Homo sapiens: one gene and its partners. The protein of the gene in region 4 purifies or fractionates together with the protein of the main gene of each other region. This does not show direct contact. Each region holds a gene or a part of one and is shown on either strand. Other genes may lie near its edges. The genes, in order: VRK2, EARS2, ATP1A3, FAM187B, SPPL2B, CLGN and PRSS33.

Region 1 (3,949 bases), on a different chromosome or scaffold from region 4:
TAGTAAGTGTTCTCTGTAAGAAAACTACTTTTATGTGTAAGACTGTATAGGGATAGTGGTACAATATGTCGTTTAAAAATTAGATTCTTCAAGTTTATTTAGTGTTTTCTGAGATTTTTAGTGGAAATCTGGTGCCTATGTTTTATAAAAAGTGATTCAAGTACTATTATATACTACATATATATGTTCATATTTTCACAGTTGAAATAACAATTCCATCTTTGGGATTATTTTTTTCTAGTAAAATTAATTATTCTTTTTTTTATAGGAATATCAAGAAAATGGCCCGTTATTTTCAGAACTTAAATTTTATCAGAGAGTTGCAAAAAAAGACTGTAGTAAGTAAAATTAGCAAAGCAAGCTACTTCCATATATGTGCTTGCTAAAGTGAGTGTTGATATTTTGGTCTTTTTCTGGCCTTCTGGAAAATTCTTTTCAATAGAAATTTTATTGTAAAGTGATACAGTTAACTGTTACAACATATAAAAGCAAGACAGATGGTATACAAATCTTGACATGACATACATAATGGGTTATATATTTTAAGTCAAAGTTGTTTCTACTACTTTACATAAAATGTTAGGTTGTTAATCTAAGCTACCAAGAGTTCCCTAAGTGTAAAAGATAGTAGAATGAAATTATTTCTTTTACAGTAAACCATTTGGATAGGACGGCTATAAGGAAAAAACATTAAAATGGGAAGTAGATATATGTATAAAAAAAGAACGATTGTAGAATGGATTGGGGCAAGGTGTGTGGAAATGTGAAAATGATTAAACTTTAAGATGTTTAAGAAAATGTTAGAAACTTGAATGCTGGAAAATTAATTGGAGCTGGATACCAAGTGTAAGAATGACCAGTTAGAAGACTTGAATGGGAAATGAATATAAGCAGAGAGGAAAAATAACAGCATTTTATAAATGTGATATAGATGGGCTAAGAAAAACATTAAAGAAGTAGACAGGAGTAATGACTGTATAGTCAAGGTCCTTTACATCATGTTTAAGAATAAGAGTGATGGGTCTGACCTCAATATTTAACTTAGTTTTTCTTAATAAAGTCTTCTAAACATTAAGACTGTAATCTTTACTAATTGCTTAAACTATGTCACAGTGACAAATAGAATCCATTAAACTTGATTGTTTATCAGTAGAGCTGTCTTAAACATAAAAAACATAGGCTAGAGTCATGAAAAAAATGATGAAAGTTAACTTTATTTAAGTGGATTTGATTTTTTGTAAACTAATCAAAACCAGTTTTTGTATAAAGTAATTTCAAAGTAAGATGGTTTTTCTGCCCAATTTCTGCTTTTTTTTTCTTTTTTTTTTTTTTTTGGTCCATTATGGTTTTAAATCTTGAAGTAATAGGGAAGAAAAAGCCATCTCTCTACTGATCTTTTGGTGGTTAACATATGTTATATTTAGAAATTTAGCTAGTATATAAGATAATGAATTCTTTTTATAGATTGAAACATTAATATATATGGTATCAATATACAAAGCCTATGACTTGTTTTTATTGATTTAATTTAAAAATTTCTAATTTTTTGTTAATTATAGTGGTAACAGTTTGAGGCCATTAGATAGAGATGTTTGATTGAAAAAAAATTATCTTCTAGGAAGATCTAATTACTTTTTTGGTTAGCTAAATAAATTTGTCTGTAGAAAGGTGACAAGTATCTTTTCAAATAACATGAATCTTTTTAAAAATAAATTTGTCTTTGTAGTCAAAAAGTGGATAGAACGCAAACAACTTGATTATTTAGGAATTCCTCTGTTTTATGGATCTGGTCTGACTGAATTCAAGGGAAGAAGGTAAAATGGAATTATTATAATCAAATATTTCTTTATAACTATTCCTTATGTGGTCTATGAGTTAACTATTGCCATGTAACAAATTACCAAAACATATTGGCATATAACCACAAACTTGTATTGTCTTAGTTTCTGTGAGTGAGGAGACTGCAAGTGGCTTATCTGTATGATTCTAGATCAGGATCTCTAATAAGGATATGTAGTCAGCTGTCTGCTGGGTTACATTCATTTCAAGGCTCATCTGGGGAAGTATTTGTTTTCAGGGTTCCTCATGTGGCTACTGGTAGGCCTAAGAAGATCTACTTCTAATTTACTTATGTGATTGTTGGCAGGCCTTCTTACTTCCTGATCATGTGGGTCTTTGCATAAGCTACCTGAGTGTTATGAAAAATAGCTGGCTTTCTCTAGAGCAATTAATTGGGGGACGGGGAGAGCATGCACACAAGTGCATTCAAGAAGGAAGTCATCGTTTTTTGTAATCTAATCTTAAAAGGGATATTATCGCTTCTGCTTTATTCTCTTTGCTAGAAGCTAGTCACTAGATAGATCCATTGGTCCTGAGAGAGGAGAATTCAGTTCTATCTCTTGAGGAGAAGCACAACAAATAAGTTATAGAAATATCTTTAAAACCACCAAATATGGCTAGTCCTATATATAATTTATTAATAGTGTTTGAAAAAAGAAAAAAAGTGTGTCATTTTATATTTACCCTTTTGTGCCAGAGACTTTTATATACTTTATCTTATTTTGTCCTTTGAATAGCCTGTTAAAATAGGTGATATTATTTTTATTCCATAGATGAGAGAATAAGCTCAGATGTCAGTACTTTGTTGAAATGGTCTCTAAATGCTTTAAATTTAAAAAAATGAGCAAACAGTAATCTTGAAGTAAAGGACTGCCACTGGGGGACTGAATGGCTGATTGAATCATGATACATCCATATCATGTCATATGTAGCCCATTAAAGAAGTCCATTAGAGCTATACTAGTTGCCTTAGAAGGATTTTGATGAGATACTATTGAAAAAAGTAAGATGGAGAAAATACTTATAATATGATCACATTTTTGTAAAACAAATTCCTAAGTGTGTGTGTTTGTGTATGCATGCATAGATATAGAATAGGGGCTGATGTGGATATATAAATGAAGGGAAGGAAAGAAGGTATGGAAGGTGCCAAACAGAACAGAAAAGGAAGAAGTGCACTTAAAGACATGTTTATAAATGTATAGAGACGGTATATATGATCTTATCAAGAAACAAACAAATATAAAATTCATGTGGCTGGGCACGGTGGCTCATGCCTGTAATCCCAGCACTTTGAGAGGCTAAGGCAGGCGGATCATGAGGTCAAGAGGTCGAGACCATCCTGGCCAACATGGTGAAACCCCGTCTCTACTAAAAATACAAAAATTAGCTGGGTGTGGTGGTGCATGCCTGCAGTCCCAGCTACTTGGGAGGCTGAGGCAGGAGAATCGCTTGAACCTGGGAGGTGGAGGTTGCAGTGAGCTGAGATTGCACCACTGCACTCCAGCCTGGTGACAGAGCGGGACTCTGTCTCAAAAAAAAAATCAAGTGTGTACAATAATTTGTTCAAGGCCATATGGCAAGAAAGTCATGGAGTCAAAATGAATTGCATTCAGTACTATCTAATTTAGAAAGATTTTTTCATTATGTAAAACAGTGTGAATGGTTCAGTACAGCATTCTCTTATAGAAAATCAGCTGCAAAGTAAATATTGAGCAGTTTCTGCAAAAGAATAGCAGAATTATGAACGTGCATTCATTCTCTAATGGTTTAGATTGCATTATACTTAGTTGTTAGGTTGAGCGTAATTTTTCTTGTTTCAAATTAAATAGACAGTTTCAAGCATTACTTTCTCAGGATGATCTCTTTTTGATGCTTTTTTCTTACAGTTACAGATTTATGGTAATGGAAAGACTAGGAATAGATTTACAGAAGATCTCAGGCCAGAATGGTACCTTTAAAAAGTCAACTGTCCTGCAATTAGGTATCCGAATGGTAAGAATTACTTATTTCGCATGCTCCATTTCCAAATTGTTTACTTCTTGCAATATAGAAATCTTTTCCCTTTGTGGAATTATTAGAGAATGAAGGATTATTGCCCTAGAGACAT
Region 2 (3,949 bases), on a different chromosome or scaffold from region 4:
ATCTCGGCTCACTGCAAGCTCCGCCTTCCGGGTTCACGCCATTCTCCTGCCTCAGCCTCCTGAGTAGCTGAGACTACAGGCACCCGCCACCACGCCTGGCTAATTTTTTGTATTTTTAGTAGAGATGGGGTTTCACTATGTTAGCCAGGATGGTCTCGATCTCCTGACCTCGTGATGCACCAGCCTCGGCCTCCCAAAGTTTTGGGATTACAGGCGTGAGCCACCACGCCCGGCCAACCATTTTATACTCTTTAGGAATCCAGAGTTTAGTGAGTAATTTACCTGAGATTAGAACACACATCTCAAAATAGTCTTGGGGTTTTTCTTTCTTTTTTTTTCAATCTCTAGACTAGCAGAGTCTTGGTATTTTTCCTTGGGAATCTCCCCTTTCCTAGTCACACCCGTCCATACAGGTAGACAACTGTCGACCCATGAAAAGGAAACACACTCCTCTTTGTTCTCCCTGACCTTAGCTGTCCTCAGGATAAAACTTCCCACAAGATCAACTTCAGAAGCTGTACGTGTTTTGTGTGGCTTATACAACATGGTTAAAAAAAATCTGAGCCCAGATTTAATAATGGTTAAGTATTCATCCAGAAAAACTGGATTTCTGGCTCCTCTTGCAACTCAGAGGATTGGACAAGCTGGGCCAGCATTCCCGCATGGGCACAAGGAGCTGGAGCTCAGAGGCACTCCCAACTCTGGATGAGGTGTGGTTTTCACAGCTCAGCACTGGCCCAGCTCCTCCAGTTCCCACTTGGCCCTGTGTTTCCTGCCTGGCCCCTGTAGGGAATGAACTTGAGATTCTGAGGTGAAAACAGGAATCTCAAAACAGCCTTGGCAGTGGCTCACACCTGTAATCCCAGCTCTTTGGGAGGCTGTAGCAGGAGGATTGCTTGAGCCCAGGAGTTTGAGAATAGCTTGGGCAACACAGTGAGATCTCATCTCTACAAAAAAATTAAAAATTAGCCAGGCGTGGTGGTGCGTGCCTGTAGTCCCAACTACTTGGGAGGCTAAGGTGGAGGATCACTTGAGCCCAGGTCGAGGCTACAGTAAGTTATGATTGTGCCATGGAACTCTAGCCTGGGTAACAAAATGAGACCCTGACTCTAAAAAATTAAAAAATAAAGAAACCAAGTTGGGCGCGGTGGCTCATGCCTATAATCCCAGCACTTTGGGAGGTCGAGGCAGGTGGATCACGAGGTCAGGAGGTCAAGATCATCCTTGCTAACACAGTGAAACCCCGTCTCTACTAAAAATACAAAAAAACTTAGCCGGGCGTGGTGGCGGGCGCCTGTAGTTCCAGCTACTTGGAGGCTGAGGCAGAAGAATGGCGTGAACCCGGAAGGCGGAGCTTGCAGTGAGCCGAGATCGCACCACTGCACTCCAGCCTGGGCAACAGAGCAAGACTCTGTCTCAAAAACAATAAATAAATAAAAATAAAGAAACCAGTCTTGGAGCTGTGTTTCAGAGAGCTTCGGCATTTTTTCAGGTGTCATCTGCCACCCCGGGCAGGGCAGTACAAATGTAGCCACTTCTCCAGGAACTCCCCATTTTCCACTCAGAACTCCATGAGAAGACCCACAGGCTCCTTTTCCTGCTTCCTGTTCCTTCCCTGCAGAAAGATCCTTTCTCTGCCAGGCTTACCTGCCCACTCCAGCATGTCCTCAATATTCTCCGCTGCCCCAGGCACAACGCGAGTCTGATCTGTGTCCTCTAGCCTCAGGATGAAGCTCCCCTGGTACTTCTTAGCAAAGATGTAGTTGTACAAGGCAGTGCGGAGGCCACCCAGGTGCAAGAAGCCTGGAGAAGAGAACAGCTCAGATAAGACAGGGAAGATAAGCTAATAGGCCTCAGCAAGGGGCAAGTAAGCACTACTGTGACAGAATGTTGCAATAAATTTAAAAGACCAGCAGGACACATTGGCTCACGCCTGTAATCCTACCACTTTGGGAGGCCAAGGCCGGGGGGATCACTTGAGCCCAGGAGGTTCCTGTAGGTTTTTTAAGACAAGAGTCTCACTCTGTCACCCAAGCTGGAGTGCAGTGGCACAGTCTTGGCTCACTGCAACCTCTGCCTCTTGTGTTTAAGCAATTCTCATGCCCAGCCTCCCGAGTAGCTGGGATTACAGGTGTGTGCCACCACGTCCAGCTACATGTTTGTATTTTTGGTAGAGACAGGCATTCGCCATGTTGGCAAGGCTGGTCTTGAACTCCTGGCCTCAAGTGATCCCCCCAGCCTCGGCCTCCCAAGTGCTGGGATCACAGGCAAGAGCCATCACACCTGGCCAATTTTTGTATTTTTAGTAAAGATAGGATTTTGCCATGGTGGTCAGGCTGATCTCGAACTCCTGACCTCAAGTGATCCATCTGCCTTGGCTTCCCAAAGTGCTGGGATTACAAGCGTGAGCCATTGTGCTTGGCCTGAGTTTGAGATCTGCCTGGGCAACATGGTGAGACCTTGTCTTAGCAAAAAATATAAAAATTTAGCTGGGCATGGTGGTACATGCCTGTGGTTTCAGTTACTGAGGTGGGAGGATCACCTGAGCCTGGGGACGCTGAGGCTGCAGCGAGCCATGATCACGCCTCTGCACTCCAGCCTGGGCAGCAGTAGAGTGAGACTCTGTCTCAAACAAAAAAAATTAAAAATTAAAAAATTTTTTTTCAAAGACTAAGAACTAGTTACCCCTGTGCCCTGTCTCCAGACACATTTAATCCCTCATCCTGAAAATGGAAACCACCCAGGATTTGGAGCATGTCATTTTATTAAAAGGCTCCAATTTTCCCCAACTGCATCCACCACTCTATTTTGATATTTGTCTCAAGGCCAAGTTTCGCCTGAAAGAGAAGCAGAGAGTTATTCATTGAGGCCATATCATGTACATTTAACTTACAGAAATTCAATGATGTGCGCTGGGAAAAAAATTAATTACAAACAAACTAGAAATTTAAAATACTGTACAATCATATTGTGGGCCAGGTGCAGTAGCTCACACCTCTAATCCCAGCACTTTTGGAGGCAGAGGCACGAGGATCACCTGGGTCTCTAAATTTGAGACCAGCCTGGGCAACATTGTGAGATCCTGTCTCTACAAAGAAAAAAAAAATCGGTGGGGCATGGTGGCTCACACCTTTAATCCCAGCACTTTGGGAGGCCGAGGCGGGTGGATCACAAAGTCAGGAGTTTGAGGCCAGCCTGGCCAACATGTTGAAACCCCGTCTCTACTAAAAATACCACAAAAAAAATTAGCTGGGCATGGTGGTGGGCGCCTGTAATCCCAGCTACTTGGGAGGTTGAGGCAGGAGAACTGCTTGAACCCAGGAGACAGAGGTTGCAGTGAGCCGAGATCGCACCATTGCACTCCAGCCTGGGCGACAGGGCGAGACTCCATCTCCAAAAAAAAAAAAAAAATCACATTTTGCATATGCAGTCTATGCAGTGTGCATGACTGTCCACGTCGTACATTTTAAATTTCATCTACTTGAGATTTTTACTTTTTTAAAGAAACAAAATTCATTTTTGAAATTTGAGATGGGGTCTCACTCTTGCCCAGGCTGAAGTCCAGTGGTACAGTCACGGCTCACTGCAGCCTCAACCACCCAGGCTCAATCAATCCTCCCACGTCAGCCTCCCAAGTAGCTGGAACTACAAGTGTACACCACCATGCCCGGCTAATATTTGTTTTTTGGTTTTTTTTTTGCAGAGGCAAGGTCTCACTATGTTGCCCAGGCTGGTCTCAAACTCCTGGGCTCAAGCAATCCTTACACTTCAGCCTCCCAAAGTGCTGGGATTACTGGCATGAGCCACCATGCCTTGCCAAGATTTTCACCCTAATTGCTGGCTTTAAACACTAACCAAAAGTAGTGTTTGATTCCACTGTATTTCTCTTCATCAGTTTAAACTCCTAAGATTTGCCTTTTTCATCATTCCTGTCTGAAAACTGAAAGTT
Region 3 (3,949 bases), 6.8 Mb from region 4:
TTTTTTTTTGAGACAGAATCTCGCTTTTGTCGCCCAGGCTGGAGTGAGGTGGCACGATCTCGGCTCACTGCAAGCTCTGCCTCCTAGGCTCAAGCTATTCTCCTGTCTCAGCCTCCTGAGTAGCTGGGATTCCAGGCACCCATCACCACGCCTGGCTAATTTTTATACTTTTAGTAGAGATGGGGTTTTGCCATGTTGGCCAGTCTGGTCTCGAACTCCTGACCTCAGGTGATCCACCCGCCTCGGCCTCCCAAAGTCTTGGGACTACAGGCATGAGCCACTGCGCCCAGCCTTCACATTTTTTGGTAGAGATGGGTTCTTACTATGTTGTCCAGGCTTGTCTCAAACTCCTGACCTCAAGCAGTCCTCCTGCCTCAGCCTCCCAAACTGTTGGGATTAAAGGCGTGAGCCACTGCGCCAGGCTTATTATTTTATTTTATTTATTTATTTATTTATTTTTGAGATGGAGTTTCACTCTTGTCACCCAGGCTGGAGTGCAATGGCGTGATCTTGGCTCACTGCAACCTCCGCCTCCCAGGTTCAAGCGATTCTCCTGCCTCAGCCTCCTGAGTAGCTGGGATTACAGGCATGTGCCACCACGCCCCACTAATTTTGTATTTTCAGTAGAGACAGGGTTTCACCATGTTGGCCAGGCTAGTCTTGAACTCCTGACCTCAGCTGATCTGCCCGCCTTGGCCCCCCAAAGTGCTGGGATTACAGCGTGAGCCAGTGCACCCAGCCTCATTATTTTATTTTTTAACTTGATGTACTCTTCAACTTTTCATCATGAGCGTGCACTTCTTAATTTTGCAATAGGATTGTTGGCTCTTTACGGCTTGCCAGTGTTTCTCAAGATTTTTGTTTGTTTCTTTCTTTGATTGTTTGCTTTGTTAATGAGGCCCTCTGAGTCAGGCCCAAGTTGTCTTTCACAAGAATACTGTGATCCAGGCCCCCAGCCCCTTCTCCGGACCCAGGGGTCCAGATCCCAGCCCCTCCTCCCCCAGACACACGGGTCCAGGCCTCTAGCCCCTCCTCCCTCAGACTCAGGGGTCCAGGATCCCAGCCCCTCCTCCCTCAGACCCAGGAGCCCAGACCCCCAGGCCCTCCCCACCCAGACCCAGGAGCCTGGCCTTACAGTGACAGTGGCCAGCAGACCCTCTGGGACATTGGCCACGATGATGCCGATGAGGAAGATGACAGCCTCAAGCCAGGTGTATCCGAGAATGAGGGAGAGGATGAAGAAGGAGACACCCAGGAAGACAGCCACGCCGGTGATGAGCTGGATGAAGTGCTCAATCTCGATGGCGATGGGCGTCTTGCCCACCTCCAGCCCTGATGCCAGGGTGGCGATACGGCCCATGACAGTGCGGTCGCCCGTGGCCACCACCACGCCCCGAGCCGTGCCTGCAGGCCAGAGGGGTTAGGCTGAGGTGGGGTGGCTCAGGGAGGTTCTGGAGGCCTGACCCCCTGGGACACATCCCTGTGTCTGCCCCAGCTGTGTGTCTTCTCTGCACCCGCCTCACCTTCCACACAGTTGGTGGAAAAGAAGGTGATGTTCCGAGTCTCCAAGGGGTTGTCGTGAGTGCAGTCGGGAGAGCGAGTCTGGGGCTCGGATTCGCCAGTCAGGGAGGAGTTGTCCACCTGGGGGTAGGTGCAGCAGAGAGAGGGTTCAGTCCAGGGCCTGGGACAGGAGGGTATTTGTGTACAGGGCTTGGGGCTGAAGCCTGTGTGCCTGGAGATCACAGCTAGAAGCCTGGGTGCCCAGTGGGTGAGTGGTGTGTGGGAGGCCAGAGGCTGGGATCTTGAAGGTGGGGAAGGCACAGTGCTGCTGGCCAAGGTCTAGGGTCCCTAAGGATCTCCGAAAGGTGAGGGCTGGGCCTGGACTCCTGACTGTTGGGTGAGGAGGTGGCCCAGGGCCTAAACTCCTGGGTCTGAGGGAGGAGGGCCTGGGGGCCTGGACTCCTGGGTCTGAGGGAGGAGGGGTTGGGACCTGGACTCCTGAGTGTGAGGGAGGAGGGGCTGGGCCTGAGCTCCTGGGCAGCCCGAGGGAGGGTAAAGCCGGGCCCTAGGCCCAGGCCCACCTTGCAGCCGTGGGCTGAGATGATCCGCAGGTCAGCTGGCACTCGGTCTCCACCCTTGATCTCCACCAGGTCCCCGACCACCACCTCCTCAGCGTTCACCTGCATCTTCTCACCTTCCCGGATCACCAGGGCTTGCTGAGGTGGGATGGAGTAATGTCACCTCCCAGACTCCCTCTGCCTGGGGGTCACTGGGCCCGGCCCCCAGCCCATACACTAACACCCCCGTCTGGCCCCTTGCTGGGCACCCTTCACCTGGGGCACCATGTTCTTGAAGGACTCCATGATCTTGGAGCTCTTGGCCTCCTGGTAGTAGGAGAAGCAGCCAGTGATGATCACCACGGCCGCCAGCACGATGCCCAGGTACAGCTGTGGGGAGATGTGGGGATGTTGATCAGGGGCCGCCCAAGCCACTCTCCACCAGTCCCTGCTCGCCTGGAGTCTGGGAAGGGAGCTTTGTGTCAGTGGGGGTCTGTATTTGTGTGTCTGACCCTAGGTTGGTTATGAGGGTTGGTGTGTCTGAGTCTCCCCTGTTTGTGCTTGAGTCCCTCTTTCTGTAATGGTTGTGTTTGAATCTAAGGGTCTGTCGATTTTTTTTTTGAGACAGAGTCTCACTCTGTCGCCCAGGCTGGAGTGCAATGGCATGATCTTGGCTCACTGCAATCTCCGCCTCCTGGTTCAAGCGATCCTCCTGCCTCAGCCTCCTGAGTAGCTGGGACTACAGGTGCATGCCACCACACCTGGCTAATTTTGTGTATTTTTAGTAGAGATGGGGCTTCACCATGTTGGCTAGGATGGTCTTGATCTCCTGACCTTGTGATCTATCACCTTGGCCTCCCAAAGTGCTGGGATTACAGGTGTGAGCCATCTTTCCTGGCATTTTTTTTTTTTTTTTTTTTTGAGACAGGGTCTCGCTCTGCTGCCTAGGATGGAGTACAGTGGCACAATCTCAGTTCACTGTAGCCTCAACCTCCCAGATTCAAGCAATCCTCCCTCCTCAGCCTCCGGAGTAGCTAGGACTACAGGTGTGCGCCACCAGGCCCGGCTATGTTTTGTGTTTTTTTAGAGGCTGGGTCTGTCTGGGTATGTTACTCAGGCTACTGGAACTCCTGGTCTCAAGTTACCCTCCTGCCTTGGCCTCCCAAGGTGCTGGGATGACAGGCGTGAGCCACCATGCCCGACTTGTCCATCTGTTTTGTGTGTGTGTCTGTCCTCCTGCACATGTTGAGTCTGGGATGCGGCTGTCTGTCCATGTGTCTGTCTGACTGGCTGCATGCCTGACTTTACATTCTACAAGGCAGCTTCTTTGGTTCTCTGTGTGTGGATCTCTGTCTCTGTGTCTCCAGCTCTGCCTCTCTGTGAGAGCTTATGTCTAAGACTGTTTAGATTTGAACATCTGAGGACACTCTCTGTGCCTGACTCTCATGTCTCTCTGTCACCAGGTTATGCCTGCATTGCTGTGTGTGTGTGTGCGTGTCAGTGTGTGTGTGAGTTTCTCTGTCAGTGTATATCTGAGTCTGTGTCTGTGTTTCTGAATTAGGTGGCCATGTTTGAAACCACATCCTGGTGTGGCATCTGCGTTGACCCTCCGTGCACATGCGTGTGTGTGCACACACGCCTACCCAGGTGAGCAGCTCTGTGTGGCTGGTGTGTGGTCTGTGTTATGCGCATGGGATCTGAGGCTGCATCTCGAATGTGTCCCTGTGTTATGGGGATGGGCCCTGATGTATCAGCAGCGGGGTGTGCCTGGGTCTCTATGTGACACTCACTCTGGGTATCTGTCAAGCCATGACCACCTGCTGGTGTCTGTTCTCAAGGCCGCTGAGGTCACACAGCCTTGGGACAGAGCCCCGGCTCACACATCCTGCTGT
Region 4 (4,420 bases):
ATAGAAATCTTCCATCTTTTTCTATGTTGGGAAAAGTCTGGAAGATCATTTAATTTATTTATTTATTTATTTATTTATTTGAGGCAGTGTCTCTGTCACCCAGGCTGGAGTGCAGTGGCGCAATCTGCACTCACTGCAACCTCTGCCTCCTGGGTTCAAGCTATTCTTCTGCCTCGGCCACCTGAGTAGCTGGGATTACAGATGCCCGACACCATGCCTGGCTAATTTTTTGTATTTTTAGTAGAGATGGGGCTTCACCGTGTTGGCCAGGCTGGCCTCGAATTCCTGACCTCAAGTGATTCTCCCATCTTGGCCACCCAAAGTGCTGGCAAGTGCTGGCATTACAGGTGTGAGCCACCGCCTGAGAAGGTGTTTAGAAAAGGGGATGGAAGGAAAGGGAGCAACTGAGAAAAATATTTGTTGAAGATGTATTGAGTCATGCAGATGGCTGAGGGAAGAGACGGGGACCAGCATGTGCAATGGTTCTGGGGCAAGAGCCCCTCTGCCTGCCTGACAGATTCAGGGAACAGCGGGAGGCCAGCGTGGTTGGAGGGTAGGGAGTAGGGGGAAAGGTGCAGGAGGTCAGAACAGTAACCAGAGATAAATTTTTTTAAATTTTTATTATTTTTTTTGAGATGGAGTTTCACGCTTGTCACCCAGGCTGGAGTGCAGCGGTGCGATCTCGGCTCACTGCAACCTCCGTCTCCCAGGTTCAAGTGATTCTCCTGCCTCAGCCTCCTGAGTAGCTGGGATTACAGATGCCCGCCACCACACCCAGCTATTTAGTAGAGACGGGGTTTCACCACGTTGGCCAGGCTGGTCTTGAACTCCTGACCTCAGGTGATCCGCCCGCCTCAGCCTCCCAAAAGTGCTGGGATTACAGGCATGAGCCACCGAGCCCAGCCCGAGAGGATTTGTTTACTGCTTTATCCCCAGTGCTAAGAAGTGTGCCCAGAACATAGTAAGAGTTCAGGAAATATGTGTTGAGTGTTCACATGTGACACCTTCATGCTCTTATTTCATCCCTGGGAATGTAGTCTCACCCCTGGGAAAGGAAGCGGGGCAGGTAGTAGAGAAAACTCTGAATAGACAAATTAAGTTTGCTCCTTTCCCAGCAAAATGGAGGGCTTGGAATAGAAATTAAATATGGTCAGCGGGGCACAGTGGCTCACGCCTGTAATCCCAACACTTTGGGAGGCCAAGGTGGGAGGATGGCTTGAAGCCAGGAGTTCGAGACCAGCTTGGGCAACATAACAAGACCCCGTCTCTACAGAAAAAATTTTAAACTAGCTGGGCATGGTTAGCATGCACCTGAAGTCCCAGCTACTCAACAGGCTGAGGTGAGAGGATTACTTGATTCCAGGAGTTTGAGGCTGTAGTGAGCTGTGATTGCAGCACTGCCTTCCAGCCTGGGTAAAAGAGCGAGTCCTTGTCTGAAAAAAAAAAAAAAAAGAAAAACAGTGTTGTCAGCTTGTCACAAAACAAAAGGGGATGGTGACCTCACACACACATGTGGTAGCTGCAATTCATCCCACTGCCCAGGGCTGAGGCCAGAGTTCATGGGTGACCTCACAATGTTCGGGGTGGCACCAGCCCACTGCCACAGCCCCAGTCCACCATGCCACCCATGCTGTGGCTGCTGCTCCACTTTGCTGCCCCGGCACTGGGGTTCTACTTTTCCATCAGCTGCCCCAGTGGTAAGCAGTGCCAACAGGCCCTACTCTCAGGCAATGATATTCTCCTGTATTGCAACTCCTCGGGGGCGCACTGGTACTATTTATTCACACAAGGCAAGAAGGGCAGGCTCACCAGCCTCACCAATATTTCCAATATGGAAATAATGCCCGAGGGCAGCCTTCTCATTAAAGATCCATTGCCCTCCCAGACGGGCCTCTACCACTGCTGGAACAAGAATGGCCGCCAAGTGGTGCAGTATGAAATTGACTTTCAGGATGTCACCACCCTGCATATAACACACAAGGACCTGGGTCAGAGGCCCCTGCAGAACGAGACCCTGCATTTGGGCAGCAAACAGCTCATTTTTACCTGGTGGGAGCCCTGGCAGGACTGCAACCGCTGTGAGGAGCCGGGCGAGTGTAAACGCCTGGGGTACCGCTACATTGAGGAGCCTCTGGAGGAAGCCATGCCCTGCTGGCTCTATCTGGGAGAGGTGCTGGTGTGGTCTAGCCGCTTGCGGCCTGAGCTGCAGGTGGAAGCCTGCCACGTCCAGTGCACCAATAACACACAGTTAAGGGTGGATTACGTCATTTTTGACAACTTCAGGCTCGATGAGAAGACAGAATTTGTGTGGCTCGACTGTCCCTTAGGATCCATGTACAGGTGATGGAATCCCTGCCTCTGGCCCCTACCCAGATTCTTCCGGTCAGGGGATCCTTCCTGGTAATATGTGCAGAGGGATGAGTGGGCGTTCTTTGCAGTTCAGCCACGTAGTGGTCATCAGGACAGTGCCAGGCCCTGCTCTTAAACAGTCCGAGGGGGACACAGCCCAGGGTGGTGCGAGCCGGGATGGGAGAAGCCCAGGCAGACAGATGGGGCTGTGATGGGGGAAGCCCAGGAAGCTTAGGGGCTCCAACAGGCCCCTGCTTCATCTGGAAAGGTCAGTGAGACCTTGGAGGAGAGGCTGGTGCCCCCGGGGCTTCCCATCAAGGCCTGCCTCCCAGAACTCACACTCATCTTCTTACTTCCTGCCAGGAGCCTCTGGAAAATAGCCCCTTCCCCTCCTCTCCCCCAGTCCACCTGCCCCTTAATAAGAAATGCAGGCTGGGCGCGGTGGCTCATGCCTGTAATCCCAGCACTTTGGGAGGCCGAGGTGGGTGGATCACCTGAGGTCAGGAGTTCGAGACCAGCCTGGCCAACATGGTGAAACCCCGTCTCTACTAGAAATACAAAAATTAGCCAGGTATGGTGGCACGTGCCTGTAATCCCAGCTACTCAGGAGGCTGACGCAGGAGAATCACTTGAACCCGGGAGGCGGAGGTTGCAGTGAGCCGAGATCACACCACTGCACTCCAGCCTGGGCAACATCACGAGACAACTCTGACTCAAAAAACAAAAAAACAAAAAAACCCCAGAAATCCATTGTCTCACCCTTCTGGAGGCCGTAAGTCTGAAATCAAGGTGTCAGTAGAACCACGCTCCCTCTCAGTCCCTCTGAGTGAGCTGGGCAGAATCCTCCTTTTTTCTAGCTTCTGGATGCAGTCAGAGATCCCGGTCTTCTCTGGCTTGTGGCTGCTTCTCTCCAATGCCCGCCTCCATCATCACTTGGCATTCTTCCTGGGTGTCTGTGTCCCTGTCTCTCTTTTCCTTTTCTTAAAAGGACACCGGTCAGATGGGATTGAGGGCCCACCTTATTCCAATATGCTCTCATCTCAACTGATTATATCTGCAATGATCCAATTTCCAAATAATGTTACATTCTGAGGTTCTGGGAAGGACATGCATTTTGCGGGGGCCACTGTCTAACTCAGTGCAGAGGTCTTGCCAGCCCCTGGCCACACAGGGTCATTGTGATGTGTTAAGGGGACTAAAGACTGTAGAGTGCCTGCCATAGCATCCAATAAGAAGTTCCACAATGTACCTAGCTGGGAATGCAAGCTTTTATGATATTGTCTGTGGAATATCCTCTCTGTTCTTCCACCACGCTGGGTGTGTCGGTGCCTGATTCATTTCTCCACTAAACACGTGTTCACTGCATATTTATATGCCAAGCTCCATTCTAGGGACCTGGGAAACAGTGAAGAACACAACCAACGGAGATTCTTGCCCTTGTGGCGCATAAATATATAGTTTTATTATTATTATTGTTATTATTATTAGAGACAGGGTCTTGCTCTTTCACCCTGGCTGGAGTACAGTGGCACAATCACAGCTCACTGCAGCCTCAATTCCCCGGGCTCAGGTGATTCTCCCATCTCAGCCTCCACAGTAGCTGGGACTACAGACATGCACTACCACACCCGGCTAAGTTTTTAAGTTTTGTAGAGATGAGGTCTCACTTTGTTGCCCAGGCTGAGCCCAAACTCCTGGGCTCAAGTGATCCTCCCACATCGGCCTCCCAAAGTGCTGGGATTACAAACCTGAGCCACTGTGCCCGACCTATAGTATTTTGGATGGTGACGGAGCAGGAAGGGATGCTGGGAATAGGGGAGGTTAAAAGTGTCAAGTGGTGGGGTCAGGGAAGGCTCCTCTGAGAAGCTGCCATTTCAGCCCAGACTGAAAGGAGGCGAGGAAGCCCTGGGGACAGAGGGAACAGCCAGGGCCAAGACTGCACCCAGCATGTCAGAGGAACATCTAGGAGAGCAGCGTGGCTAGGCAGAGTGAGTAAAGGGGAGAGTGAAGGAGATGAGACCAGACAGGCAAAGGCAGGTGGACAAATCATTTAAGGAGTGCCCTTGCTAAC
Region 5 (3,949 bases), about 33 Mb from region 4:
GGCCGGGCGCCGCTGCGGAGGAGAATGCGGGGGCCCCGGGGCTCTAGAGACACATCCGGCTGGGGTTGCAGGAAAGATCCAGAGGCGAGAGGCAGGCCCTGACCAGGTCTGGGGGACTCTTAGCTGGCCCCCAGTTCCCCTGGGCCTCCCCAACCCTGGTCATCAATGCAAGCTGTCCATGCGGCCTTGGGGTGCAGATCCAGAGGCACCGGCCGAGCTCCATGTGGTAGATAAGGGTCTCTACTGCTCCATGCCGGGGACCCTATCCAGTGGGCCCAGACAGAGGGGTCCTCAGAGGAGTAACAGCAGAGGGCACAGTGGGGCCCCAGGGACGAGACCTGTTCCTTTCACCGTCTTCCTGACTGGGGCACTAACACCTGCTGCTGGATGAGTCCCTCCCTCAGAGGCCCCACCTCCTTTCCCACTTAGTCCTCATGCCCCGCCTCCTTTCCCACCGCATCCCTCAGGCCCCGCCTCCTTTCCACTGCATCCTTCAGGCCCCGCCTCCTTTCCCACTGCATCCTTCAGGCCCCGCCTCCTTTCCCACTGCATCCTTCAGGCCCCGCCTCCTTTCCCACTGCATCCTTCAGGCCCCGCCTCATTTCCCACTGCATCCTTCAGGCCCCGCCTCCTTTCTCACTGCATCCTTCAGGCCCCGCCTTCTTTCCCACTGCATGCTTCAGGCCCCGCCTCCTTTCCCACTGCATGCTTCAGGCCCCGCCTCCTTTCTCATTGCATCCTTCAGGCCCCGCCTCCTTTCCCACTGCATCCCTCAGGCCCCGCCTCCTTTCTCACTTCATCCCTCAGGCCCTGCCTCCTTTTCCACTGCATCCCTCTGGCCCCGCCTCCTTTCCCACCACACCCCTCTGTCCCTGCCTCCTTTCCCACTGCATCCTTCAGGCCCCGCCTCCTTTCCCACCCCATCCCTCAGGCCCTGCCTCCTTTCCCACCGTATCCCTCAGGCCCTCTCTCCTTTCCCACCGCATCCCTCAGGCCCCGCCTCCTTTCCCACTGAGTCCCTCAGGCCCCGCCTCCTTTCCCACTGTGTCCCGCCCCCTCCTGGAGCCCTCGAGGTGTGCCGGCGAAGAGGCACTAGCATCTTCCTGTCAGCTTTATGCATAGTGTGTGCGTGTGAGCACGTGTGTAATCAGTATGTGCCTGGACATGCTCATGTGTCTGCATGTTTATGTGAGTTTGCATCAGTGTATGTGTGCATGTGCCTGAGTGTTTTTTTGTGTGTGAACACATAGGTGTGTGTCAACACATGTAATAGGTATGTGAACACATGTAATAGGTATGTGTGAAGACATGTGCCTGAGTGCATATTTCTGAGTTTGTGTGTGTGAGCACATGTGTACTAGATATGTGCATGGACATGTGTGCCTTAGTGCGTGTTTGTGTGTCAGCACACCTGTGTGTGTGAGCATGTGTGTAATAGGTGTGTGGGGGCATGTGCATGGGTCTGAATGTGTATGTCTGTTTTTATGTGCACATGTGCCTGTGAGTGTGCATGCAATAGTTTTGTGTATGGATGTGTGAGTGCATGTGTGTCTGTATGTGTGCAGGTGTGTGTAAGCATGTAGCTACATAATAGTTATGTTTGTGGATGTGTGCATGTGTCTGCACATGTGTGCGTGTGTACATGTGTAATAGGTCTGTGTGTATGTGTGTGTACATGTGGATAATAGGTTTGTGTGTGGATGTGTATGTGCCTGTGTGTTTGGGTTCGTGTGTGTGCATGAGTGTGTGTGAGTGCATGTGTAATAGGTATGTGCGTGTGAGTGTGTGAGTTCATGTGGCGTGTGTGTATGCATGTGTGTGTAATAGGTGTGTGTGCGTGAGCTTGAGTGCACAGGTATGTGCTTGTATATGCACACGTGTGCTGTGTGCTCTGGCCTGGCTGTGTGTGCGTGTGTGTGTGCATGTGTGTAATAGGCATGTGTCTGCTTGAGTGTGAGTGTGCATGTGTGTGCTTGCGTGTGCATATGTGTGCCATGTGGTCCGGCCTGGCTGTGTATGTGTGCACGTGTGTGTGCATGCACTCCAGCCTGGCTGTGGGTGTGTGTGTGTGTGCGCGCTGGCCTGGCTGCGGCTATGTGCGTGTGTGTGTGTGTGCACTCCAGCCTGGCTGTGGGTGTGTGCGTGTGCACTGGTCTGGCTGTGGGTGTGTGTGTGTGTGTGCATGTATGCATGTGTGTGCCGTGTGCTCCAGCCTGGCTGTGGACGTGTGCTTGTGTGTGCGCGTGTTCCGGCCTGGCTGTGGGTGTGTGTGTGCGTGTGCGTGTGTGTGTGCGTGTGTGTCTTGGCTTCAGGGGCTGTGAGGCCCCTGAGAGTTGGGGCTTTGTTCTCTGCACACTGGAAACCCTCCCCCTTCTCACAGATGCCTGGCCGTGGTGGGGCTGCGGTGGGGACCCACTTGGTCTTGCTGAGTGATCTGTGACGGCTCGCGGGGTGGCTCAGGTATCAGGGGACAGCCATGTCTGTGAGGACTCCGGCCCCGCTCAGATGAGGCAGCCCAGCCCGTCGCCCAGGGTCCGGCTGTGGGAGCTGCAGTAGGGATGGCTCTGCCTAGGTGGGCCGAGGCCGTGCGGGGCTTTAGGTGAGGGCTGGGATCTAACTCAGCGCAGGCTTCAGGTGGGAGAACGGGCAGCTGGGCCCTCCTGGTGACTCACATCACGTGAGACAACACTGTGCCCTGGCCTTTCCAGTCTTTCCTGCAGCTGCGCAACTGGACGGCCTCCCTGCTCTGCTCCGCAGCCGACCTCCCCGCCCGTGGCTTCAGCAACCAGATCCCGCTGGTGGCGCGGGGGAACTGCACCTTCTATGAGAAAGTGAGGCTGGCCCAGGGCAGCGGAGCACGCGGGCTGCTCATCGTCAGCAGGGAGAGGCTGGTACGGCCCTGTGCGTCCCCCGCTGGGCCAGCTCTCAGGGGCAGGAGGGGGGTGCAGGAGGCAGAGATGGCAGCAGCTGGGGCTGGTCTTCCGACTTCTCGCTAAAGGCAGATCCATCTGTGGGGAGGATCTGGGCCGAGTGTGAACATGGGGAGGATCCGGGCCGAGTGTGGCCGTGGGGAGGGCGGAGATGAGTCTGTTCTTCCTGAGCTGCTGGCTGGGGCTGTGGAACTTTGGCCGTGGTCTTGTTGGGTGCCTGTCCTAGAGCAGCCCCCAGGGGTGACGGAGACCACACTCTCTGTGGGGATGGGATTGGGGTGGCTTCTGAGGAGCAGGTGGCCTGGCCCTGAGCTGGTCCTTTCTGGGTACCCTGGTGCCCTTGCCCTCTAGCCGGTGGGGCCGTGCTCGCCTGTGGTCCTAGCCAGGTGGCCTGAAGCCTGGCCCCTTTTCCATCTTCTGTGAAATGGGGCTGTGGTTGAGAGCTGGGGGCCTGGCAGGGCTGGTCACAGCACAGGGACATGCCGACTGCTGGGCTGGGCAGGGTGCGTGGCCGCCCCTGAAGTGTAGTTTTGGAGTAAGAAGGAATGGAGTTCAGGAATTCCCTCACAGCTCTGCCTGTGGCTCTGGGCTGCCCCCGCCAGTGTTGCACCCTGAGCCTGGCAATCCACGGAGGCCTGGTGCAGGGGCTCAGGGCCGAGGGCAGAGCAGGCCGGGCAGAGCCGAGAGTGCCATCCCTGTCCGCACACGCTGCCGTCGTAGTTGAGAGAGGCCCTCAGTGGGTGCGGGGCTCAAGGCGGCTTAGTGGGCAGGCATGGGCTGTGACAAGTATCACTCAGGACTTGTATGTGCGGTTCGGGAGTCCCACGGCCGAGGGAGGGATTAGTGGCGCTTTTAGGCCTGGGGCCCTGTTGTCAGGTGAAGAAGGCTTGATGCCCTTCGGCCTCCCTGTTCTTGGGTCCTCCTGGGGGGCCGGAGGCTGTCAGCTGCAGAGGGGGAGCCAGCAGGCGCCCCCAGCCTGACCCGAGCCTCGAGTGAGGGTCCCAGGAGAGGAGGCGAAT
Region 6 (3,949 bases), on a different chromosome or scaffold from region 4:
TACATATATATATATATACATATATATATATATATGTATATATATATGCTCCAGCCAGGCATGGTGGCTCATGCCTGTAATCCCAGCACTTTGGGGGGCTGAGGTGGGTGGATCACCTGACGTTAGGAGTTCAAGACCAACCTGGCCAACATAGTGAAACCCCATCTCTACTAAAAATACAAAAACTTAGCCAGGCGTGGTGGCAGGTGCCTGTAATCCCAGCTACTCTGGAGGCTGAGGCAGGAGAATTGCTTGAACCCGGAAGGCAGAGGTTGCAGTGAGCTGAGGTCGCACTATTGCACTCCAGCCTGGGAAACAAGAACAAGACTCCACCTCAAGAAAAAAATAATAATAATGGAGCTCCTCGAACAGTCTTGACACATAGTAAGCATGCAATATATATTTGTTGATGAATGACTGAGTTTTTAAGTAACAAAAGCAAGGTCTAATACATTATGTATAGAATGCTATCATTCGTATTAAAAAAAAGAATGTATACGTGTGTGCATGTATGCATAGAGCACAACAGGGAATATGTACCAAAAATTGGCAAGTTAGCAAAAGATTTAGGTGGGTAGTAGATGAGGACAAATAACAGGCACAAACAAAAGGGAGGGAAATAATTTTATGGTACCTTCTTAGTGTTGTAACATGCATTTTTAAACTTTCTGAATAATTAGTAATATAAAACGTTGTATTTACAGGGATGAAAGTGAACCTGCCCAAATAGAAGATTCAAGTGTTGTTAAACCTGCTGGCTGGCTTGATGATGAACCAAAATTTATCCCTGATCCTAATGCTGAAAAACCTGATGACTGGTAAGCACTCTTCATCTTCAAATGTCGATTTCAAATGTTTCTTACATGCATTTTTGTTACTAGTTTATATGACTGATCTGAGACTTGAGGTTACTGTATTTGCTTTGTTTTAATATCCTAAGGAATGAAGACACGGATGGAGAATGGGAGGCACCTCAGATTCTTAATCCAGCATGTCGGATTGGGTGTGGTGAGTGGAAACCTCCCATGATAGATAACCCAAAATACAAAGGAGTATGGAGACCTCCACTGGTCGATAATCCTAACTATCAGGTAACAACCGCTTGTTCCAATTATTTAGTGAAGTTAAAAATGTTGTGATCTTTTCTATTTAAATATCTAATTACCTATGTCAACTTTTGGAAGTTTCATTTTTAATTTTAAGATGTCAAAGAAAATAGACCTCAACTAATTTATATTTTAAAAGTAGAGCATCAATTATTTAATTTTCTGGGGAAATAAATCACTTCATACTATATTCTTCCCTAATTATCAGTTGATGCTCACTTTGAAATAAAGTTCTATTTTAGAAGTAAATATAAGAAGTGAATTTTGATCAAATAGACTCATATTGTACATTTTAGTAATTAATGCCTGTGCTTAATTAATGTACTTATTATTTAGTATTATTAAAATTCTGATTTTTGGCCAGGTACGGTGGCTCATGCCTGTAATCCCAGCACTTTGGGAGTCCAAGGCGGGCGGATCACGAGGTCAGGAGATGGAGACCACCCTGGTCAACATGGTGAAACCCTGTCTCCACTAAAAATACAAAAAATTAGCCAGATGTGGTGGCGCACGCCTGTAGTCCCAGCTACTCAGGAGGCTGAGGCAGGGGAATCTCTTGGACCCTGGAGGTGGAGATCGCAGTGAGCTGAGATCGTGCCACTGCACTCCCGCCTGGCGACACAGCAAGACTCAAAACAAAAAAACAAAAAAACAAAAAACCTGGCCTGGCGTGATCTTGGCTCACTGCAGCCTCTGCCTCCTGGGCTCAGGCGATTCTCCTGATTCACCCTCCTACGTAGCTGAGATTACAGGCACACCCCAGCACGCCCGGCTAACTTTTGTATTTTTAGCGGAGACGGGGTTTCACATGTTGGTCAGGCTGGTCTCGAACTCCTGACCGTGATCCGCCCACCTTGGCCTCCCAAAGTGCTCAGGTTACAGAAGTAAGCCACCGAACCCAGCCCTGATTTTTTTCTGATATCAATCGACATCTTTTGAGTGTACCTAGCTTTTTATATTAAAAGTTTCTATGTTATCCACTTAACCCTCTAGTTTTATCTTTGTAATTATTTATGGATACGTTCTAACATTATATATATGCAGTTTCATATTCTAATTACTCACTGTAGTTTTTATTAAAAGCATTTAACACAAAATGTTTCTTTTGGTAAATTTTTTTGTTTGATGTCTGTCTCTTTTATTTGACTTTAAACTCCATAATACAGGAACCATGTATGTCTCCATCATCTGGCATAGTGCCTGGCCCAGAATACATACATGTGATGGTGGAGTGAGTCAGTGAGCAATGATATTGTTGAATGTATTTGATTTAATGGACAGTTTAATCATTTAAGATCTAATGGAAGTTTTAGGTTGAGTAGTTGTGCCGAGATTCAACCATACCTGATTAATGATATCTGTCATGGGTATATGTTAAATGGAGTAACTCCATTTTTGCTATACAATGATCTTTCTGATTTGGACAACTTGAATAACATTTTGCAATGAATAACTTTACTAAATCTAAAAATTTGTCCAAAGTAGACAAATTGTGAAATTTATTCACGTTTCTGTTTATGTTGGATTTTCCCTTTTCCTTTTCTTGCAGAATTTAAAGTTAGTATCACTCGTAGGGAACATTGTGTACACAGCAAAAGAAACAAGATTTTATATCCAGTATATTACTAATGAATTAATATCAGTTAAAATTCTCTTTTTTCCAGTTAGCATTGCGAATTTCATTCAACAGCAGCTACTTATTAAGCAGCATTTATAATGAAGTTATTTTATTTGAAAATGTCTTCAATTACTTTTCTTCCAGGGAATCTGGAGTCCTCGAAAAATTCCTAATCCAGATTATTTCGAAGATGATCATCCATTTCTTCTGACTTCTTTCAGTGCTCTTGGTTTAGAGCTTTGGTCTATGACCTCTGATATCTACTTTGATAATTTTATTATCTGTTCGGAAAAGGAAGTAGCAGATCACTGGGCTGCAGATGGTTGGAGATGGAAAATAATGATAGCAAATGCTAATAAGGTATGGTGTTGACCAATAGCAGTAGTGATATAACTATGAATAATAATACTTGGTCTTGGTTGTAGGTTATTCAGATGGCTCTTTTAAATGCAAATAAATGTGCAGTAACTACTAAATGCCAAGGAAATGTGTTTGAATAAGTTTATGTAGACAGAATATTTTGCTTTTTATGTTACTTCATTATGAGCTATATATGCATATGTAAGTCCTCATTTTATTCATTAAATTATAACATCACTAATGGGATTTAATGCTTATTTACTGTTCATAGAAGAAGACTACTTAATATCTTTGTCATCTTGCCAGTTCAAGACCTAAGTGACAATGATAATCTAAATATTACTGTTTATTTAACTATTTTTTACTTAGAGGAATGTACAAAGAATTTATAGTTTAACATTATTAAATTCTGTTCCAGTTTTTTCCCGAAACCTTAACACTGTTTAGAAAAGGTTGGGCTAAATATTTCAACACAATGCATCTTAGAAAATGTATCATTAAATTCAGTTGCTATAAAGAAAAATTCTTACCTTACATTTGGTTCCTTGGGTCACTAGCGAAAAACCATCAAAAGAGTAGGTGAAGAGGGATTCTTGTTTTGAACCTCTTGTAACTAAAACATTTGATTTTTTAAATTTTATTTTAATAAGAGAAATAATATCCTTACTGAGGGTCTTATGTGTGAAATGTGTTTATATAAAAAAGAAAACAATTCTGAGGTATGATTTTTAGTAAGTTCTTTAAAAGTACAGAATGAATGATCAGAGTACAGAATGAATGATCACTTCAAATAAACCAGGTAATACATCCATAAAAGGTAGTTCTATTCTGAAATTTACCAAAAAGGAAAATTACCATTTTTCTT
Region 7 (4,466 bases), on a different chromosome or scaffold from region 4:
GACCCAGACCCTGATGCTGGAGGGGAGACAAGAGGATGTAAATCAAACCTCCTCAAGTCCCTGTCAAAGGACAACTATGGGCTGGCCTCGGTGGCACATGCCTATAACCCCAGCACTTTGGGAGACTACAGCAAGAGGATCTCTTGAGCCCAGGAGTTCGAGAACAAGTTGGGCATCATTGCAAGACCCCATCTCTGGAAAAAAAAATTGCTAGGTGCTGTGGCATGCACCTGTGGTCCCAACTACTTGGGAAGCTGAGGTGGCAGGATCACTTGAGCCCAGAGGTCAAGGACGCAGGGAGTTGTGATTGTACCACTGCACTCCAGCCTGGGTGACAGAGCAAGACCCTGTCTCTCTCTCCCTTTTTATTTTTTTTTGAGACAGAATCTCACTGCGTCGCCCAGGCTGGAGTGCAGTGGCATAATCTCGGCTCACTGCAACTTCCACCTCCCGGGTTCAAGCAATTCCTGTGCCTCAGCCTCCCGAGTAGCTGAGATTGCAGGCGCCCACCATCAGGCCTGGCTAATTTTTGTATTTTTAGTAGAGACGAGGTTTCACCATGTTGGCCAGGCTCGTCTCAAACCCCTGACCTCAAATGAGCCACCCATCTCGGCTTCCCAAAATGCAGGGATTACAGGCATGAGCCACCATGCTTGGCCAAGACCCTGTCTCTTTAAAAAAAAAAAGAAAGAAAAACAAAAAAAAAAAAAAGGAAAAAAGTACAACTATGGCAGGGCTGCAAAGGAGGCAGGAGGAGGTGGCAGAGCAGAAGGCTGAGGGATAAGAGGAGTTCACTATGCAGAGAGGGACTTGAGAGACTTCTAGGCAGCGAACACTGTGTATGAGCCCAAGAGGGAACTACAGGGCCCTGGACCATCCGGGCCCCGGTCCTCCACGGGCCTCGAGAGAAGGGGAGTTCCTGTCCCCTGACCCCAGCATCTTGCTCTGTCTCGGCCACCCCAAACCAAAGACTGCACTGGTCCCCAAGGTCAAGTCTCCCCCTGCCTCTGGTCAAGTAAGGAGTGCCACCAACTTTGAACCAGTCCCTTTCCACCTCCAGCTGCTCCAGACCCCGGATCTGGAAGGGGGCTGGCCATGCTGGGGTCTCTGGGTGGAGCTGTCTGGCCAGGACTTCCGTCTGAGATGGGATTTCTGGACAGAACAATGGAGCGCAGAAGCTCCAGCAACGTGTGCTCTGCAGGGAGCCCAGGTCAGGTTTGGAGAGGAGTTGCCCCGGATCCTGCAGAGCTTCCCCACCTGACTGCCACCCCTCCCAGCACCTACCCGCACCACTGCTCTCCGCCAGCCCCCACTTCTAGTACCTTGGCGCAAGGCAGGCTTCCTTTGAGAAACCCATTGACCCTTTCCTGCCACCTCTGAAGCTCTGCTCAAAGCATCTTTGTTTGAGGCTGGTCCGGTAAAGCCACAGCCCCGCCCCGGCCCTGTTCATTACTCCTTGGCTGAGCCTCGCGCTCTCCTGGCACTTTAAGCCCCCAGGCCCTCCCTCAACCCCAGTCAGCAGAAGGCGCCAGGCTGTGAGGGTGAGAGCAAGCCAGGGGCTGTGGGGGCTGCAGGGGCAGCCAGTGGGTGAGGATGAGGGTGAGGACGAGGAGGGGTGAAGGATGGGGGAGGGGGTGAGGATGAGGGAAGTGGTGAAGATGAGGGAGGGGAGTGAGGAGGAAGGGGGTGAGGATAGAGGAGGGGGTGAGGATGAGGGAGGGGGTGACGATGGGGGGGTGAAGGATGGAGGAGGGGTGATGAGAGAGGAGTGAGGATGAGGGAGGGGGTGAAGGATGAGGGAGGGGGTGAGGATGAGACAGGGGTGAGGATGAGGGAGGGGGTGAGGATGAGGGAGGGGAGTGAGGAGGAGGGGGCTGAGGATGGAGGAGGGGGTGAGGATAGAGGAGGGGTGAGGATGAGGGAGGGGTGAGGATGAGAGAGGGGTGAGGATGAGAGGTGAGGATGAGGGAGGGGGTGAGGATGAGGGAGGGGAGTGAGGAGGAGCAGGGGTGACGATGGAGGACGGGGTGAGGATAGAGGAGGAGGTGAGGATGAGGGAGGGGGTGAGGATGAGAGAGGGATGAGGATGAGGGAAGGGGTGAGGATAAGGGAGGGGAGTGAGGAGGAGGGGGGTGAGGATGGAGGAGGGAGTGAGGATGAGGGAGGGGGTGAGGATGAGGGAGGGGGTGAGGATGGGGGAGGGGGATGAGGGAGGGAGTGAGGATGACCGAGGGGGGTTAGGCTCCAGGGCTTCTGTCGAGACCAAGGATGCCCAAATATCTGGGTGGTGGGTGCTGCATACCTGGGCCCTGGGCAGAACGAAGGGTATACAGCCTGGGCCACCAGGATAAGTCCAGAACCCACCAGGAGCTGAGGACAGACAGAAGGACCACGGAGGGGGTGACGGGCTGGTGTGAGGATTGGTGCCCCTGGGCCAGGACTCTCCTCTCTTCTCCCTGCTGGCTCCAGACCAGAGTCCAAGCCCTAGGCAGTGCCACCCTTACCCAGCCCAGCCTTGAAGACAGAATGAGAGGGGTTTCCTGTCTCCAGGTCCTGCTCCTTCTGGTGCTGGGTGAGTGGGGACAGGGACTGGGGGTGAGGGCCGCAGACACCTTGGCTCCCAGTTCTCCCATCTCACTGCTCCCTGGGCCGGGCTCCCTGGAGCACTCTTGGGCTTTCTAATCTTGATTCCAAGGGCTCAATCCTCTCTGCCACTGACCTTGACCTCACCACACCTCGATGTGCTTGTCGGTGTCATGCTCATACGCCCTTGCCCCCTGCACCTTCACAGTGCTCTGGGGAGGGTTAAATAAGATAACAGACGGCACGAAAGCCTGGCGCAATGTCAGGGCAACATTGTTTCACCCTCCTTCCTCATCTCTGGCCTCCCCTCCAACTCCGTTATTTGACACCAAATCTATAATCTGGTCCCTTCCCTGCTTCCTCCTCCAGGAGCTGCTGGGACTCAGGGAAGGAAGTCTGCAGGTGAGGAAGCCTCGGAGTCCACCCGAGTCAGCCCCTCCTGGACCTCGGCCCCGTGTCTCCCCACCAACACCTGCCTCCCAGGCCCCAGGTCCTCAGCCAACCCTCACCGCCCCTGGTCCTTTTCTAGCCTGCGGGCAGCCCCGCATGTCCAGTCGGATCGTTGGGGGCCGGGATGGCCGGGACGGAGAGTGGCCGTGGCAGGCGAGCATCCAGCATCGTGGGGCACACGTGTGCGGGGGGTCGCTCATCGCCCCCCAGTGGGTGCTGACAGCGGCGCACTGCTTCCCCAGGTCAGCGCTCACCGAGGGCCCAGGCGGGGTGTGCAAGGAAGGCAAGGCCCGCAGAGGACCGGGCGTGGCCTGGCAGAGGCGTTGGGGTCGAGGCGGGCTGGAGGGGGTCGAGGACCCGGTGCTGGAAGTAGTCCCCCGCTCCTGTCCTGCAGGAGGGCACTGCCAGCTGAGTACCGCGTGCGCCTGGGGGCGCTGCGTCTGGGCTCCACCTCGCCCCGCACGCTCTCGGTGCCCGTGCGACGGGTGCTGCTGCCCCCGGACTACTCCGAGGACGGGGCCCGCGGCGACCTGGCACTGCTGCAGCTGCGTCGCCCGGTGCCCCTGAGCGCTCGCGTCCAACCCGTCTGCCTGCCCGTGCCCGGCGCCCGCCCGCCGCCCGGCACACCATGCCGGGTCACCGGCTGGGGCAGCCTCCGCCCAGGAGGTAAGGCAGGAGGGCGGGGCTCCGAGGCATCCGGGAGCCCCCACGTCCTCCTCCATCTGACTGGAAATCCCAGCCCCTCACTGCCCCAATCCAGGACCCAGCGCGGCTTCTAGGGAACAAAACCTCCTCTCACTCAGAGCTCAGCTTCTCCCACTGGCCCCCGCTCCACGCCTTCCTCTCAGAGGTCCCTCCTCTTCCCCCAGTGCCCCTCCCAGAGTGGCGACCGCTACAAGGAGTAAGGGTGCCGCTGCTGGACTCGCGCACCTGCGACGGCCTCTACCACGTGGGCGCGGACGTGCCCCAGGCTGAGCGCATTGTGCTGCCTGGGAGTCTGTGTGCCGGCTACCCCCAGGGCCACAAGGACGCCTGCCAGGTGTGCACCCAGCCTCCCCAGCCTCCGGAGTCCCCTCCCTGTGCCCAGCACCCTCCCTCCCTGAACTCCAGGACCCAGGACATCCCAACTCAGGCTCAGGATCCTGGCCTCCAACCTAGAGGCACCACGCCAGGGGTCTGGAACCCTGAGAACTGAAGTCCTGGGAGGGCTGGGACTTAGGCTCCTCTTTCTCCTGCAGGGTGATTCTGGGGGACCTCTGACCTGCCTGCAGTCTGGGAGCTGGGTCCTGGTGGGCGTGGTGAGCTGGGGCAAGGGTTGTGCCCTGCCCAACCGTCCAGGGGTCTACACCAGTGTGGCCACATATAGCCCCTGGATTCAGGCTCGCGTCAGCTTCTAATGCTAGCCGGTGAGGCTGACCTGGAGCCAGCTGCTG

Evidence for each region.
Region 1: the proteins of FAM187B (region 4) and VRK2 purify together in Homo sapiens (affinity purification with mass spectrometry; 3 studies listed by BioGRID and IntAct, with this or other methods). This does not show direct contact.
Region 2: the proteins of FAM187B (region 4) and EARS2 purify together in Homo sapiens (co-immunoprecipitation; one large-scale study listed by IntAct). This does not show direct contact.
Region 3: the proteins of FAM187B (region 4) and ATP1A3 purify together in Homo sapiens (affinity purification with mass spectrometry, with the first as the bait; one large-scale study listed by BioGRID). This does not show direct contact.
Region 5: the proteins of FAM187B (region 4) and SPPL2B purify together in Homo sapiens (affinity purification with mass spectrometry; 3 studies listed by BioGRID and IntAct, with this or other methods). This does not show direct contact.
Region 6: the proteins of FAM187B (region 4) and CLGN purify together in Homo sapiens (affinity purification with mass spectrometry, with the first as the bait; one large-scale study listed by BioGRID). This does not show direct contact.
Region 7: the proteins of FAM187B (region 4) and PRSS33 purify together in Homo sapiens (co-immunoprecipitation; one large-scale study listed by IntAct). This does not show direct contact.

Annotation. Positions count from the first base shown.
Region 1 is NC_000002.12:58,084,613-58,088,561, forward strand, and holds part of VRK2 (serine/threonine-protein kinase VRK2), read left to right. Parts: intron 1-268; coding exon 269-338; exon of another isoform or gene 339-387; intron 388-1,726; coding exon 1,727-1,814; intron 1,815-3,728; coding exon 3,729-3,834; intron 3,835-3,949. UniProt on the Homo sapiens protein: Serine/threonine kinase that regulates several signal transduction pathways.
Region 2 is NC_000016.10:23,550,502-23,554,450, forward strand, and holds part of EARS2 (nondiscriminating glutamyl-tRNA synthetase EARS2, mitochondrial), read right to left. Parts: intron 1,804-3,949; coding exon 1,648-1,803; intron 1-1,647. UniProt on the Homo sapiens protein: Non-discriminating glutamyl-tRNA synthetase that catalyzes aminoacylation of both mitochondrial tRNA(Glu) and tRNA(Gln) and participates in RNA aminoacylation for mitochondrial protein translation.
Region 3 is NC_000019.10:41,983,783-41,987,731, forward strand, and holds part of ATP1A3 (sodium/potassium-transporting ATPase subunit alpha-3), read right to left. Parts: intron 2,448-3,949; coding exon 2,334-2,447; intron 2,217-2,333; coding exon 2,082-2,216; intron 1,642-2,081; coding exon 1,524-1,641; intron 1,405-1,523; coding exon 1,136-1,404; intron 1-1,135. UniProt on the Homo sapiens protein: This is the catalytic component of the active enzyme, which catalyzes the hydrolysis of ATP coupled with the exchange of sodium and potassium ions across the plasma membrane.
Region 4 is NC_000019.10:35,225,879-35,230,298, reverse strand, and holds the start of FAM187B (protein FAM187B precursor), read left to right. Parts: upstream 1-1,559; 5' UTR 1,560-1,618; coding exon 1,619-2,340; intron 2,341-4,420.
Region 5 is NC_000019.10:2,334,735-2,338,683, forward strand, and holds part of SPPL2B (signal peptide peptidase-like 2B isoform 2 precursor), read left to right. Parts: intron 1-2,708; coding exon 2,709-2,891; intron 2,892-2,897; exon of another isoform or gene 2,898-3,949. UniProt on the Homo sapiens protein: Intramembrane-cleaving aspartic protease (I-CLiP) that cleaves type II membrane signal peptides in the hydrophobic plane of the membrane. Functions in ITM2B and TNF processing.
Region 6 is NC_000004.12:140,392,961-140,396,909, reverse strand, and holds part of CLGN (calmegin precursor), read left to right. Parts: intron 1-704; coding exon 705-818; intron 819-940; coding exon 941-1,091; intron 1,092-2,868; coding exon 2,869-3,084; intron 3,085-3,949. UniProt on the Homo sapiens protein: Functions during spermatogenesis as a chaperone for a range of client proteins that are important for sperm adhesion onto the egg zona pellucida and for subsequent penetration of the zona pellucida.
Region 7 is NC_000016.10:2,784,608-2,789,073, reverse strand, and holds the start of PRSS33 (serine protease 33 precursor), read left to right. Parts: upstream 1-1,513; 5' UTR 1,514-1,541; exon of another isoform or gene 1,542-1,599; intron 1,600-2,469; 5' UTR 2,470-2,526; coding exon 2,527-2,572; intron 2,573-2,952; coding exon 2,953-2,985; intron 2,986-3,112; coding exon 3,113-3,275; intron 3,276-3,427; coding exon 3,428-3,699; intron 3,700-3,902; coding exon 3,903-4,072; intron 4,073-4,271; coding exon 4,272-4,430; 3' UTR 4,431-4,466. UniProt on the Homo sapiens protein: Serine protease that has amidolytic activity, cleaving its substrates before Arg residues.